4 linked regions of the Homo sapiens genome follow. Changing the gene in region 1 together with any one later gene gives a genetic interaction. Each region holds a gene or a part of one and is shown on either strand. Other genes may lie near its edges. The genes, in order: EIF4A3, KRAS, RIT1 and EGFR.

Evidence for each region.
Region 2: changes in EIF4A3 (region 1) and KRAS are lethal when combined (synthetic lethality), as found in Homo sapiens cells (3 studies listed by BioGRID, with this or other methods).
Region 3: changes in EIF4A3 (region 1) and RIT1 together harm fitness more than expected from each alone (negative genetic interaction), as found in Homo sapiens cells (one large-scale study listed by BioGRID).
Region 4: changes in EIF4A3 (region 1) and EGFR together harm fitness more than expected from each alone (negative genetic interaction), as found in Homo sapiens cells (one large-scale study listed by BioGRID).

Annotation. Positions count from the first base shown.
Region 1 is NC_000017.11:80,136,792-80,140,955, forward strand, and holds part of EIF4A3 (eukaryotic initiation factor 4A-III), read right to left. Parts: intron 3,350-4,164; coding exon 3,217-3,349; intron 2,960-3,216; coding exon 2,879-2,959; intron 2,372-2,878; coding exon 2,230-2,371; intron 1,490-2,229; coding exon 1,351-1,489; intron 711-1,350; coding exon 595-710; intron 1-594. UniProt on the Homo sapiens protein: ATP-dependent RNA helicase. Involved in pre-mRNA splicing as component of the spliceosome. Core component of the splicing-dependent multiprotein exon junction complex (EJC) deposited at splice junctions on mRNAs.
Region 2 is NC_000012.12:25,209,033-25,213,196, forward strand, and holds part of KRAS (GTPase KRas), read right to left. Parts: intron 3,147-4,164; coding exon of another isoform or gene 3,146-3,146; intron 880-3,145; coding exon 763-879; 3' UTR 1-762. UniProt on the Homo sapiens protein: Ras proteins bind GDP/GTP and possess intrinsic GTPase activity. Plays an important role in the regulation of cell proliferation.
Region 3 is NC_000001.11:155,897,308-155,901,349, forward strand, and holds the end of RIT1 (GTP-binding protein Rit1), read right to left. Parts: intron 3,312-4,042; coding exon 3,081-3,311; 3' UTR 501-3,080; downstream 1-500.
Region 4 is NC_000007.14:55,022,017-55,025,516, reverse strand, and holds part of EGFR (epidermal growth factor receptor isoform a precursor), read right to left. Parts: intron 1-3,500. UniProt on the Homo sapiens protein: Receptor tyrosine kinase binding ligands of the EGF family and activating several signaling cascades to convert extracellular cues into appropriate cellular responses.

The sequences.
Region 1 (4,164 bases):
CCCATCTCTACTAAAAATGAAAAAAAAAAAAAAAAATTAGCCATTCCAGCTACTCGGGAGGCTGAGACACAGGAGTCACTTGAAATCAGGAGGCAGAGGTTGCAGTGAGCCAAGATTGTGCCACTGCACTCCGGCCTGGGTAACGAAGTGAGACTGTCTCAAAAACAAACAAACAAAAAAAGACACACACAGCACATATGTTAAGCTGACCACAAGGTGGGCAAAGAAGGAAGTCTGAATCAAGTTCAAATGAATGAAACCACCCAATCCACGCTTTCTGACCACTGTGGAATTAAACTAATCGAAACGATGAACAGAAAACCCCCCTACTTACTGGAAAAGAAGACACACGCTTGTAACCAAGGTGACCAACCTGGCTAGTTAAGGCTAGTTATCACCTCAACCTAAGTATTACAGGAGCACAGCGGACCCCTCCTTAACTGGAAGGTTTTCTGCTCACCCAGGGCCTCAGCTTTCAGAGCAGAAGCTTGGCATCCCCCCGGGTGTGGGGCCTGCACTTAGGCGGTACATATGAAGTGCTTAGACACAGTCTAGCAAACCCTGACCTGCAGAGCCACAGCATAGCAGACCCACCTGGCGCCCGACCGGAACTCCTTCATGATGGACTCCCGCTCTTTCTGGGGCATGTCTCCATGCATTGAGGATACAGTGAAGTTGGCTTCCCTCATTTTCTCCGTCAGCCAGTCCACCTACAAATCCAATCAACAGATGCTACTGCAAGCTAGTATACCAAAGCAGAGATGTGCATTCGGGACTTTACCGCATCATTTGCAGAACCAGTATCAATATTCGTAAGGTAACTGCTCTTAAAACTCAGAATCATCCTAACTGGATGTAAAAACTTTTTCCCAGAAAATGTTGGGGTGCACTCACAAAACCCTCTTACTTCATTTTCTCCATATAATGACTCTATGGGGGGAGGGGGCCAGGTGTGCTCATTCTCATTTGAAATTTGAATTCCAATCTTGTTAGAATGTAGCCCAACTCCTTTCCTTTCTCAGGAAAGTGGCCGACAGTTCTCAGGTCTGCCTCCACATTACCATCACCTGGGGATCTAAAACTACTCAGGCCTGGGTTCCACCTTCAGCCAACGAAATCTGAATCTTTAGGGGTGGCTGATATCGCTGTTCTGTAAATGAAGTTTTAATGGTCACAGCCACGTCTGACCGTTTGCATATTGTCTACAGCTGCTTTTACAAGAGAACACATACCCTGAAAGCTTAAAATATGGACAAACTGGCCCTTTACTGAAAAATCTTGATTTATGTCATTCAGAGACTCAATCTGCAGTTTCCCTTCAGCACATGGATGCTGTGCAGTGCCTCTTACCTTTCTTTTGGTGTTGCAGAAGATGACCGCCTGAGTGATGGTCAGTGTGTCGTAGAGGTCACACAGAGTGTCAAATTTCCACTCTTCCCTCTCCACTGCCACGAAAAATTGCTTGATGCCTTCCAGAGTCAATTCATCACTGAAGGACAAAGACAAATCCTGTTACATACTCATCCTTCCTTCTAGGACTTGAGGGTGGGCCAAGCCAGGATCCAGGGAGACCCTGGTGGAAAAGGTCACACCGTGATATCTGGTGCAGACCCAGCAGCCCCAGCCCTGTCCTCCATCCTATCACCACTTCCGTCACACAGGCCTCCATTCTGTATCCTACTTAACATTTCACAATGTGCACCACATGGAATACGATTCTAAACGAAACACTGATAAATAAATAGTCACCTAATTTTTAAATTTAGAATTATTGGTTCAAACCACAATGAGGATTATAAAAGATGGGTTGTTTTGTTTTGTTTGAGACAGGGTCTTGCTCTGTTGCCCTGGCTGAAGTACAGTGGCACAATCAAAGCTCACTGCAGCCTCAGCCTCCTGACCTCAAGCGATCCTCCCACCACAGCCTCCTGAGTAGCTGGGACTATAGGCATGTGCCGCCCTACCTGGCTAATTTTTTATTATTGGTAGAGATACGGTCTCTATATGTTGCCCAGCCTATTTGGTTTTTTAAAACAGGAATTTTAAAAGAATTTGCATGCTTTCAATTCCTTTACACTCAGGCAAGAGGATAGCCTGAGGTCCGGGTTTTGACACGAGCTTCAGCAACACAGCCAGACTCTGGCTATAAAAAGTTTTTGAAATTACGACATAAAATCCTTTATAAATGCGGCCCAGTGTTTTAGTAAACTTGACAAGAGGGGCTCCTACCGTTTCACCAAGATGCGGATTGGGTCGGTCATGAACTTGTTGGTCATCTCCAGAATCTCGTGTGGCAGCGTGGCACTGATGAGAACCACCTGTGTGGCTGGAGGCAGGTACCTGTATACATCGTAAATCTGCTCTTTGAAACCTGGGACAGGGAGCAAGACAGGTGAGGGATGTTTAGGGCGGCACACCCAGAAATGGAAGGTGCACGCCCAGTGTTCCCACTGGGTTAGAGGCAGAGTGGTGATAAGGTACGTTTGACAGGAAATCTCATTTTTACAGCACCAGGCCACATCCACGCGTTCTCTCCGTCCCTACTCCCCGCCCACCGGAGTGTTATCTGGTTGAGGGAATCTGGTTTCCCTTTGGTGCTTCTTCAATCTGAAGTGATCTAGGGATCAAGAAACCCACCCCGAGAGTCCTAGATACCAAATAAAAAGCAATAGAGGCTGGCCTGAGTCACCCACAATGAACAAATAAATAAAATCAAGGTAGGAATTTTTTGTTCATAATTGCCAAGGCACAATTGTTTTTCCACGATGAAAACACTATTCACATTCAGAACAGTCACTGGCTGTTTCAATTTTACACTGTGAAAATTTAAGAACTAAGAATTATGTCAGTAGAAGAGTAATTCTTTTGTTGCTCATACCTTTATTCAACATTTCATCAGCTTCATCCAAAACCAACATTTTGATAGCACGTGTCCTTAGGCTTCTGCGACGAATCATATCTATAACATGAGATTTTGAAATACTTACGACAAATCACATCTATGAGATTTTGAAATAATCACACCTGAGGCTCCCAAGAAAGAGCTCATCATTCCACTGGTCTCAGGGTTCCAGAGACCTTCCCTCTACCTCCTGCAAGTGACCCAGGTGCAAAAGTCTACCGTGCGGCCTACCAAATCGAAAGCTGTCCTGTACCATTTAAGCACTTCTTACAAATACTACCGGCAGCACCATTTTTAGCGACAAAAGTGCTTACCAAAAACACGCCCTGGAGTGCCCGCGACAACATGCTGTCCGTAATCCAGCTTCCTGATGTCCTCGCCAACATTGGTGCCTCCAATGCAGGCATGGCACTGGACATTCATGTAGTCACCGAGAGCAAGCAGCCCCTGAAACAAAGCACAGGTTCACGTCCAGGGTGGGAGAGAGAAACATCCACGTTTTCCAAAAAGAAAGACTGTTTCTCCTCCGAGATGATCACCGATTATTATTTATGCCATTATTATCTCGAAACCACAAAATTCTCCTGCTCTTTTCTCTGACAAAAACAAGTTAATTTTGCTTTTTTTTTTTTTTTTTTGAGACGGAGTCTCACTCTGTGGCCCATGCTGGGGGGCAGCAGCGCAATCTTAGCTCACTGCAAGCTCCGCCTCCAGGGTTCACGCCATTCTCCCGCCTCAGCTTCCTGAGTAGCTGGGACTACAGGCGCCCGCCACCACACCAGGCTAATTTTGTTTTTGTATTTTTAGTAGAGATGGGGTTTCACCGTGTTAGCACACCGTGCTGTGTGCACCCTATATGTGTATTCAGAGAGTCGTTATCTCCTGACCTCGTAATTGGCCTGCCTCAGCCTCTCAAAGTGCTGGGATTACAGGCGTGAGCCACCACACCCGGCCTGCTGGTTTCTTATTACAAAAGCTATATCATTAACAGAAAAGAATATATAAAATTCATAATCCCATCCACCGAAGAAACCAGCATTAACATCTTAATATACATCTTTTTAAACATACATCTTTATACTACGTTAAGTATAAAATGGGTACAATTTATTTTTTTTTTGAGACAGAGTTTCACTCTTCTTGCCCAGACTAGAGTACAACGGCACAATCTCAGCTCACTGCAACCTCTGCCTCCCGGGTTCAAGTGATTCTCCTGCTCAGCCACCCAAGTAGCTGGGATTACAGGCGCCTGCCACCACGCC
Region 2 (4,164 bases), on another chromosome or scaffold:
CCCCAAAATGGTTGCTATAATAATCCCCATTTCATACTGGGTCTGCCTTAACAGGAAAAGCTATTAGGAGTCTTTATAGTAATTTATCTAATGTGAAAAGGAAATGGCCTTATAATAGTTTCCATTGCCTTGTAATTTTTTTCCATTTTTTTCTTTTTATAGAAAAAATATAATATTTTGGGGAGAGTGACCATGACTAATAGCAGTGGAAAGGAGACAAAACCTTTGTGAACAGTGTAACTTTACATTCATCAGGGATGACAAACTATAGGACATGATGCCTAGAAGAATCATCATCAGGAAGCCCATAAATTTGTGTTCCCTCAATGTTTCAGTAAAAACCAATTAGAAGGTCTCAACTGAAATTAGTAATTAATCCATTTATGTGACTAGATAAAACACAGAATAGGGATGATTCAAAAGCTTCATTAATTTGTTTCACACCAACATTCACAATTGGTAAGAAAAATAAGAAGTAATCAACTGCATGCACCAAAAGCCCCAAGACAGAAATCTTAGGTATTCAGTTTCTTTTTCACAGGCATTGCTAGTTCAAAAACCAAAACTCTGGGAATACTGGCACTTAGAGGAAAAAAAAACTTCCACTGTCATTTTAAAATAAGCATTTAAGGTAAAAGCTAACAGTCTGCATGGAGCAGGAAAAAAATTAGGTAATGCTAAAACAAATGCTAATAATTTAGTGTAATGTACAAAAATTACCACTTGTACTAGTATGCCTTAAGAAAAAAGTACAAATTGTATTTACATAATTACACACTTTGTCTTTGACTTCTTTTTCTTCTTTTTACCATCTTTGCTCATCTTTTCTTTATGTTTTCGAATTTCTCGAACTAATGTATAGAAGGCATCATCAACACCCTGAAATACATAAAAAGTATTAAAATGTGAATATATACGATGGCTTCATGTGTACAGGTAACAAATTTCATTAATGGAAAAAATATTAAGAAAGGATTCTTTATGTTTCTCTTCAGGCAACTGAATATATATTACATATATTAGGACTTTTAGAATTCTTAAATGTCATCCGCATAGGTGTTTTGTCAATATTATAAACAGGAACACTAATTTTCACAAAAGACAAGGATAACCAATGGCACAGAATTTTAAATAAGGTAACGACTTTTTCACAGGAGAACTTAATTTGCTACTATTTTTTCCACATTGGCAAACCTAAGTCATCAAAATCCAAATGCATGTGTGTGTGTGTACACTTAATTGTCCTTATGTTTCTGGACTTTAGATATAAGCCATGCAACTGTAAACTATGTTCATATATCTTCACACACAGTAACAGTATTTGAGCTCCAGTTCTATACTTACGTAAAATCCATTGGATTTAAAAATTTACCAAGAAGTAAACAGTATTCGAACATCCTATTCCAATAATTTATCAACAAGTAAACAGTATCTAAACATATTATTTCAGTTTTCAAATGATATATATTAAGGGATTAGTTTCAATTCATATATTTATCATTAAGAAAAAGGTTTAAAGTGACCCCAACACAGGAGAATACCACTTTAAAAAAAACACTAATACCTCAGATTTGTGGAGAAATTAGCTAAATCATTTGAAAGGTCTTATAGTTTACCAATTTGGAGGAGATTCTTTCTATCCCATAAAGTTTTAATTTCTGTTGTATTCAAAAGCTTGCCATATAAAGCCAAATATCCTGTCTTCAAAGAGTTTAACAGTTAGTCATTGTGACCACCATCTATTTATGATTAAAGCAAGGTTATTTAAATTTAATGGCTAAAAGCGATTTTAAGCCATAATACTTTTCAACCTAATAATCTACAGTGTGAAAAATGGCACTCTCAAACTGGTAGTAGATTTTAAACCTGCAGTACTTAAATTATGCAAGATCCATACACAAGTCAATTCTTGTCATGTCTCCAATTAAAAGAAAAATATAAATAAAAGCAAAAAATGAAGAAAAAATATGATTCTCTCTGTATTTTAAAGCCTGTTCAACTGAGTAGTAACTATAAAAAGAAAATCTGTTAACCTCACAATACTTCCAAACCTAGACAGCAGAGGGAGTCTTAGAAACAAATACCCAACACATTAAGTTGTATAAATCAAGCCACTTTAGGAACAATGAAAACTGGGTTTTTACTCATTGTAATCACTTTGTAGGATATTATAAACTGTGTAAATAAATGTATTAAAAAAATTATATGTGTAAAAATATTCAAGTGATATTATCTTGAAATTAATTTAAAATGTTAAGTGGGCGGGGTGCGGTGGCTCAAGCCTGTAATCCCAGCACTTTGGGAGGCCAAGACGGGTGGATCACTTGAGGTGAGGAGTTTCAGACCAGCCTGGCCAACATGGTGAAACCCTGTCTCTACTAAAAATACAAAAATTAGCTGGGTGTGGTAGCAGGTGCCTGTAATCCCAGCTACTCAGGAGGCTGAGGCAGGAGAATTGCTGAACCCGGAGAGGCGAAGTGCATTGCAGTGAGCCGAGATAGCACCACTGCACTCCAGACTGGGTGACAGAGCATGACTCTGTCTCAAAGAAAAAAAAACAAAAAATGTTAAGTGGTATTTCTCCTTTACTGTACTACTAAGATTAACGATATTTCAAAATAAATCTGGAGCATGAACAATGAAAATTAGCTACAGTTCATGAATTTTCCTAATAGATCTATAATTCAAGAAAGCGTGACCAATATTTTAAGAGAGGTAAACATAGAATGGGAATAAGAGGCTAGTCCACATTAAGCAAACAGTAGGATAAAAACCAGCATTATTTATTTGAGCACTAGTGAAAGTCTCCAATAAAGTCCCCAAACTGCACTCACTGATGTTTCCCACTCTCTAATATCATTACTGATACTACACAAACATATGCTTTTGTTTCTCCCACAGGAGAAAGGAAAAGTGGTAAGAAATAATTTATCAGCAATACAATACCATCAAGGTTTGATTACATATATGTATGTGTATGTATCCCTTCAGGCTAAACTCTTTAACACATATAGAGGGGAAAATTTCCAATGATACAATAAAAATTATTCTGTAGCTTGCCAGCACTTGACAATTTACTTGACAGTTTAGAATCATAAACCCTTAGAATGTGATAGAATCTTAAAAGAGGATCTAACTCCCTTACCCTGAATGAATAAATTCCCTCTGATCACATCCTTATGTAATCTACTCCATTTCTACTACTTTTACAATGAAGAAAAATGCCAATGGTACTAAAATGGTAAAGCAGAAAACAATGAAAAACCATGTGATGGACACAGAGAAGACACATTTTATGGTGAAAACACAGAATTTGAAAACATTACTTCCTAAGATTCTGACAAAGATTCTAGGCTTATGTTGCAATGAACTCTCCTCTCTACATCATCTTGTTAAAATTAAGTAATTTTGGCCCAGTGCAGTGGCTCACACCTACAGTCACAGCAATTTGGGAGGCTGAGGCAGGAGAACTGCTTGAGGCCAGGAGTTTGAGACCAGCCTGGGCAACACAGCAAGAACCTGTCTCTATTTTAAAAATAAATAAGTAATAAAAAAAAATTAATTAATTTCAATCGTGAAGGAAATGTCACAACCTACACAGAGCAATGAATTCTTTTTTTCTCATATGAGAACTAATCATTCTCACACATACACATAACATTATCTTTTTCAGGACTAAGAAAAGCTAATTTATATATGTTTATCATTGTCAAATTTTTATTTATGTATTTATTTCCTAAAGGTGGGGTCTCATTACGTTGCCCAGTCTGGTCTTAAACTCCTGGCCTCAAGCAGTCCTCGCGCTGTGGACTCCTAAAGTTCTGGCATTATAAGTGTGAGCCACTGTCCCTGTGCCAAAATTTTTTTATTTTTACTTTTTTTAAGAGATGGAGTCTCTTTCTGTTGCCTAGGCTACAGTGCCATGGCACCATCATAGCTCCCTTCAACCTCAAACTCCTGGGGTCAGGCAATCCTCCTGCCTCAGGCTCCCAAGCAGCTGATACTACAGGCACACACACCACAGCCAGCTTGTCAAATAAATTTTTTTTTAAATTGTATTTAATTTTAAATTTTTAATTACCAAGTATACTTCTCTTTTATATGAATTACTTCCACGTGTACTGAAAAACAAGGATTCGTCACATCAAACAATTGTGACATTCA
Region 3 (4,042 bases), on another chromosome or scaffold:
ATACAAAAAATTAGCCAGGTGTGGTGGCGGGCGCCTGTAGTCCCAGCTACTTGGGAGGTTGAGGCAGGAGAATGGCGTGAACCCAGGAGGCGGAGCTTGCCGTGAGCCGAAATCGCGCCACTGTACTCCAGCCTGGGCGACAGAGCGAGATTCTGTCTCAAAAAAAAAAAAAAAAAAAAAATCATTCTTTCACTTTTCATTTAGTGTATTTACTTATAACAACTTTAAGTAACCCTTGATCAGGTAGCAAATGTGCTGTCATTTTCCATATGTGTTTTTCCTGTCTCCTCCCAAGAGGTAATCTCTTCAAATGAAGGGGGATTCCATGGCATGCTCCCTAGCACTTGACATGGGTGTCTTGTTCATGGTGGGCACTCAAATTTTTTGAATTCATATTTTCCAGAATATCACATCTCATGGTTATGTTTTTCTGAAAACAACTCTTTTGCAATGATTCCAAAAACTCTACCCACTGATAGGGAAGCAAAGGAAAGCCCAAGTTGTTTAAAAGTTTTGTATTATGTCATACAAACTGTCTTCACATACAAGTGCATTAAAAAAATTATCCCCCCCTCCTCCTCCCCAAACATCACAGTAGACCAATTCTTGCTAATATATGACAAAGTTAAAACATATGTCCCCTCTGAATTCTAAACAGCTAATTCTAGACACTAACATCTGGATCTTATAATTTACCGGTCTGGTATGGACATGAACAGTTCCAGTGCCTTTCAACTTATCCCTGAATTTTTCTCTTCTCAAAGTTCTAGGCAGTAATTTTAATGCCCTCAAATTAGATAAAGCTGATTACTTAGAGCTTATAAATTAGCTACACTTTATGACACTAAGAATAGAGCTATGACTTATGCATATCATACCTGTCAAGCTACCTAGCACCACGAATAGAACTAATATTAATGGATGGACTAATACAAGGATCTAATATATGACAGTGATAGTCTTAAAAACACCGATTTGTTATTTTCCTTATATATAATCCAAATTCCTTTCTATCCTTCTGGCAATGTTTCTACTGCCTGACTACCTTAAATAACTATATAGTGTCAATTTCTTGCTTGGGCCAGGTGGTGGCTCATGCCTGTAATCCCAGCATATTGGGAGGATTGCTTGAGCCTAGGAGTTCGAGATCAGCCTGGGCAACATAGTGAAACCTCATCTCTATTTAAAAAAAAAAAAAAAAAAAAAAAAAAATATATATATATATATATATATATATCTCTTAATGTTAATAACAATTCCCTAGGTCACTAGTAATAAGAAGCTATGGGCTTTAAACTTAAAAGGTGCTAAACCAGTTTAAATGTAAAACATTCTCATAATAGAATTGCACTGTATTTCTTTTCTACTTTGATGCTTTTCCAAAGTGCTATAGTTCCTGTGAGATTTGTGTCCTGCACAGAATCAAATGCTAGGTCTTTCACTTTTGGATGGCTGAGTACCATAAAACATGATTTATTTGGTAACAAAAATGTTTCCAGGAGTTTAAAAAGGGACCACTACTCAGAGCTAAAAAAGTTCTAACAGTCACTTTTTAAAAAAGCTAGTTTATCATTTGTTTATAAAGAAAAACACAACTCTGTCCTACTTCCTCTAATAAAAATGGAAAATATTAAGATGAGCTGTGTGCTTATAAAGAGGTGCTACACAAGTCATCTTACGTTTCTAGTCAACACAAACATTGCTTCAGTGACACTTAATATTCAATACATGATGCATTACTCTTAGCATTTTTGCATTTACTCTCCGCATATAACAAGGTCAGATATCAAAACAGTCCTGATCTTAGACAACTCACTACCAATATTTAAAGCTGTTTCCTCCTAGGACTACAGTTCCTAAACTATGCACAGGGAGCAAAGTGGTATTCCCTTAGGATAAACTTGGTCAAGGCTCAGATAACCCTGAGATGAACTTAGCAAAGTCCTTGTAAAGAAATCTTCAGATGGGAAACTCCACCTATGTGAATTTTAAAGCTTTAAGACTGACCCATTCAACAGAAATAGCAGATTTTCTCAGAGCACTGAGTCTAGTGATTGTCCACGTCAAGGAGGCACACACACAATTTTACCCACACCCCTGATGTCTCTTCTGTATGGAAAATGCAATCAGTGATGAAGGGCCGAAAAAACATCTTGCCAGCTGTAGCTCTTTTACAGAGCACAAAGTGGGAGGAAGCAATGAATATAAATGTGTTGGTGTGTGCGTCTGTGGGGAAAAAATAAACCTGTACAAGGCAATGGCTGATCCAACTATGAATTTTGATTAAACACGTTTAGTAATACAGTTATGATTCCCAAAATGTCTACCTTTGAAGGTAAAAAAAAAAAGAAAACCCTGAAATGAAGAGTAAAATAAGGTTCCCAGGAGAAACCTTCATCACATTTTATGCTTCTGGCTGTTCTCACTTATCCCGGTGAATTTGGGCCAAATGTGTACTTCTTAGAAAAGCGAAGCTTGTACTGAGAATACTGTTCTGAACCTACCTTTTTAAGTCCCTGCAAACATATAGCCCAACTTTCCCAAATCTCACCACTCCATAGTCTGCAACAGGTGTCAGCCTCACAGGTATCTGCTGAAATTTGGCACTGATCTCATTAGCCCCAATTTCCCTACATGATTTTTGTTCTGTCTCTAGGAAGCATAGTGTGAATAGAAGAGACTGAGGTCTTTCTCTGGGATAGTCCCAGGAAATTGAAATTAAAGGATAATGTGGAGTGCAGAGCCAAAAACTTCCCTTGTGAACTTAGTCAAACACACATGGTATACATATTCTCCTGGGTATAAACAAATTTACATTAATTAATAGCGCAACAGAACCCAAAACATTGGTAGAACAAATTCTAATGTGACAATTTAAAAGCAGACAGTGCTCCACTGGGTTAATAAATCATACTTAACTAAGAGACAATACTTTAAATACCACATCATTAAAAACTCCTAGTAGGCATGTCCCTCTTATCAGTTAAGTGAAAGAGCAAGCACCATACTCAGTACTGCAGGTTACTGGACTGCTTTGATACAGCACTGCAGTTCACAGATAAACACTTCACATCTTCTCTTCAAGTTACTGAATCTTTCTTCTTCCGGAATGGTGATTTTAGCCTCTTCCATACACTGTTTTTGGGCTTAGATTTTTTCTCCATGGCCAGTACTGCCTCCTTTTCTTTCCTACGTATCTCCCGTACAAGGGCATGGAAAACATCATCAATATAGTAGCGGTATGCAGCAGATGTCTCAAAAAAGGGACAGCTGAATTCTCGGGCCAAGGCCAATCCTTCTTCCTTGGTGACCTTTAAGGGCAAAATGTGAGAAAAGATAACAGTGAAAAACAATTAAATTGTCCAAAAACCTGAATGCACCACCACCTTAACACAAAGAAAGCTTCTCAATTCTGGAGGTGTTCAAGCATACAGCACTAATTTTTGTAATTTTAGGCTAGATTACTTCTAAGGTTTCTTATTCTGCCTTCAAATGATATGATTCTATTTCTAGTCTACTTTTTTTTTTGAGACAGAGTTGCGTTCTTGTTGCCCAGATTGGAGTGCAATGGCATGATTGTGGCTCACAACCTCGGCCTCCCGGGTTCAAGTGATTCTCCTGCCTCAGCCTCCTGAGTAGCTGAGATTACAGGCATGCGCCACCACACCTGGCTAATTTTGTATTTTTAGTAGAGACGGGGTTTCTCCATGTTGGTCAGGCTGGTTGTAAACTCCTGACCTCAGGTGATCTGCCCACCTCGGCCTCCCAAAGTACTGGGATTACAGGCGTCGGCCACTGTGCCCGGTCTCTAGTCTATTTTTAAGATACTTTTTGGAACAGGGAATAGTTTTAGATATCAAATACACAATCTTAATTTTCCCCATACTTTTTATTTTAAGAAAGATAAATAGGCTGGGCTTGGTGGCTCACACCTGTAATTCCAGAACTTTGGGAGGCTAAGGTAGGAGGATTGCTTGAGCCCAGGAACTTGAGACCAAGCTGGGCAATATGGTGAGACCCTACTTTTACAAAATTTTTAAAA
Region 4 (3,500 bases), on another chromosome or scaffold:
GACCCTCCTGCCCTTCCTCTTCTCCTCCCTTCCCTTCCCTTCCCTGCAGTCCCATTGACTTCCCAGCCTTTGTGATTGCATTCAGTATCTATCCAGGCTTCCAAGTGAGAAGCCTGGGTGTCAATCTGGGATTCTTTCTTTCTTATGCTGCTACATATACTTATCAACCAGTTCTGCCTCCTGATCAGCCCCGGAGTCCCCTGTCCTGAATCTTCCTTGCTCCTGCTTCATCCTCTGTCTCTGGCAATAGTCATGAACCTTCCTGTTTCCAATGCCACTCCTGCAGTCCATTCCCCAAACCGCTGCTGCAGCCATCTTTCTAAAACACCAAACACAGCATGTCAGTTCACAGTCACTTCTCTTTCACACAGGACAAAATCCAAAGCCACAGTGAGGATGGAGCTCTCTGTGAACTGTAGGTAGCCTTACCATTTATTCCTTCTCTTCCTGCCATTTGAATTACTAGCACTCTCAAGAACTTTGCTGCTATTGGCACTGCTTGTGTAATGCCCTGCACATCCTATTCTCTGGGGAAATAATCATATAACCAAATAGCTCAAATGAGTAATCCCTTCCATTTGTGGCTAAACGTGCTCTCCTCCCCATGTAGAATTAAAGGCAAAGACTGAACTCAAAAGTCATCCTTTGTCCTGGGAAGAGTTCCGTCATTGATTCTGTGACATTGTTTCACACTTATTATCTCTAGCTCTCTTTCCCCAGTTGACTTCCAGACACTTAAGGGCAATTACCAAGTCTAATTTATTCTTACATCTCAACATATGGATGCAACAGTGTAAATCACTCATCATGGCTCAAACATAAAGAAAAAAAAGCCTAAGTTGTAACAGGTACCAATACTTGCCCTTCTATGCAAAGGGCAAACAATCATGGTTGACTTACGTAATTATTTAAACTAAGTCAGGGCCATGTGTGCTGCCGCGCTAGTAATGGTGTAATTGCAGGTGTACTTAGGGCTGCCTGCAAGGCATTCTCATTGGGTGCCTTGTCCCCTAAATTATAACTTGAGTCTTTTGTTAATGAGAAGTTCCAGATATATTCAGAAAGGACACTTGGACTCCGAGTCTCTCCTTGAAAACCCACCAGAATGAGATAAAACTTGGATCAGAGAGAGAAATTCTACTCCCCCATGTTAGTGTTTCCATACTGCTTGCTAAAGCAAGCTGCTGAAACTGGTAGGAGTAAAATTTACTCTAAGCATATGCAATTCACAGATGCTCAGTCCACAGGACCAGTCATTTGATACTGAACTTCAGGGCCTTCAGGGATTGAAATGTCAAATCTAGCACTTACTTTCTAGGGGCTCAGTAAACACACCCCCAATATTCCTGGCCCCAACTACCCCTCCTGCTCCCAGCTGGCTCAGGGAACTTTCTAGACAACTGGATTGAGTGTATCTATCTAAATGTGTAGCAAGAAAGCTTTATCAGATGACTCTGAAAAAGTGAAAATTACAGGCAAACTAGTTATTTGAATAAGTTCCAATGCCTGGATTCTTGCCCAAATTCAAACTGGCCAGCTTGTGCCTATGGGCCCAATGGAGGACAATCTAGAGATGTCGTCCAAAGAGCCAACTGCTGGAATTTTCTTAGAAAATTCATTCCTGTAGGAGGAAAACGAAAAAGAACGAATGAGAAAACACTATGATGTTTAATGGGGATGGCCTACAGGAACAAGTTAAGATTTACACTCTATTCTCTATGGATTAGTGGTTCAAGAATAAACCAGTAATAATTAACTGAGACTAACAATGTTTATTACCATAATTTCAAATGTCCATAAGTGATAAAGGAAAACAAAAATGGAATGGATCTGAGGAACAGAATCTGTTTTTTTTTTTTTTTTTTTGAGATGGAGTCTCACACTGTCGCGCGGGCTGGAGTGCAATGGTGCGATCTTGGCTCACTGCAACCTCTGCCTCCTGGGTTCAAGCAATTCTCCTGCCTCAGCCTCCTGAGTAGCTGGGATTACAGGCACCTGCCACCACGCCCAGCTAATTTTTTTTGTATTTTTAGTAGAGACTGGGTTTCACCGTGTTGGTCAGCCTGGTCTCAAACTCCTGGCTTCATGATTCGCCTGCCTCGGCCTCCCAACGTTTTGGGATTATAGAGGTGAGCCACCATGCCCGGCCCAGAATCTGGTTTTAAAAATTATATTTACAGGGAAGCAACATGTGGGTGAACCATATTCTAAAACTTTGAAATTTTCTCAACACATACCCCTATTAGTAAAACCCAATGTTAAATAAGCTCATAACTAGAGTACTTATGAAGTCAAAATTAAAACACGCACACACAGACACACAGGCACACACACAAGTCACATGGCAAGGGCCACACTGTGTTGCAGGTGGGTTCTGCAACAGGCGAAATGTCCTCAACATTGTGACCCATCCCTATTCCGGGGCACCAGCCTGGGGTTACCTTCCCTTCAGTGCCCATAATCATCAATTGCCTTTAATATTAGAGTTGGTTTGTCACTCTCGTCAAAAAAGTTTCAGATGCTAGCTGCTAGTCTTAGAGCTTAGATCAAAGAAAAAACAAAGAATATTTTCTTTTCAAACAGGGAGGAATCCTTCATCTTTGCTGAGACTACTTCTAAAAACATTTCAGAACATGTTAGTGCTGTCACGTGGACCAAGTGTAATTATGCAGCACAATGGACTTTCGGCAATCGGTGTCTTCAAACCAGAAGTTTTTGAAAAATCATGAGTTATGAAACTAAATACGTGAAGCCAGAAATTACTGTTAAAAGCCTATTGGAGCTCTCAGCCAGTTTCTTGTATTCTGTGCTACGGCAGTGTGGGTCTAACACACAAACCACTGGTGTCCTTTCCAGATTTGAAAGCAATCTGGAAGCAAGAGCAGAAACCCTTAAAACTCACCCCCCCTTCAACCTTTAGCCCAGAATATCTAGCATATTCTATGCACTCAGTAAATATTCACTGAATTCAGAAACAACAGCTCAGAAGCCTGAAGGGTCAAAGTGACTTGTCCACCTTCACCCTGGGCTGGAGTGAGAAGAAAGGTCCCAATTGCCAGGCCGGGCTTGGGCTTTCTTGATCTGACCTCCTTTGAGGAGGGAGGGTGGGGTAGATCTCACTTTGGATACCATTAATATCCCCACTTTGGTTTCTCTTTAAGACAGCTCGGACCTACTGAATGGGAACGTCTCCAGAAGTGGGGCTGGGCGGGCTTATTTCCACAAAGCTCCCTCAGTTGGGAATTCGACTCGCCTTGGAATACTTTCCAGTGTCCCTTCTGGAGAGCACCTTCATCCTGTAAGAGGCAGGGCTTTGCTCAGCACCCCTCAAGCAGTCTCCACTCCATGCTCACTGAACTGAGGACTAAGCTGCCTCTATGGAAGGTGACCCAACAGAGGGCTGAGGAACTCGGCAGGAATGCAGACTGCCGGACAGCCCGCGTTGAAGCTTCAGACAGGCTCATCGTCATGAGCCGGCTCCCTGGGCCCTTTCCCCTTGC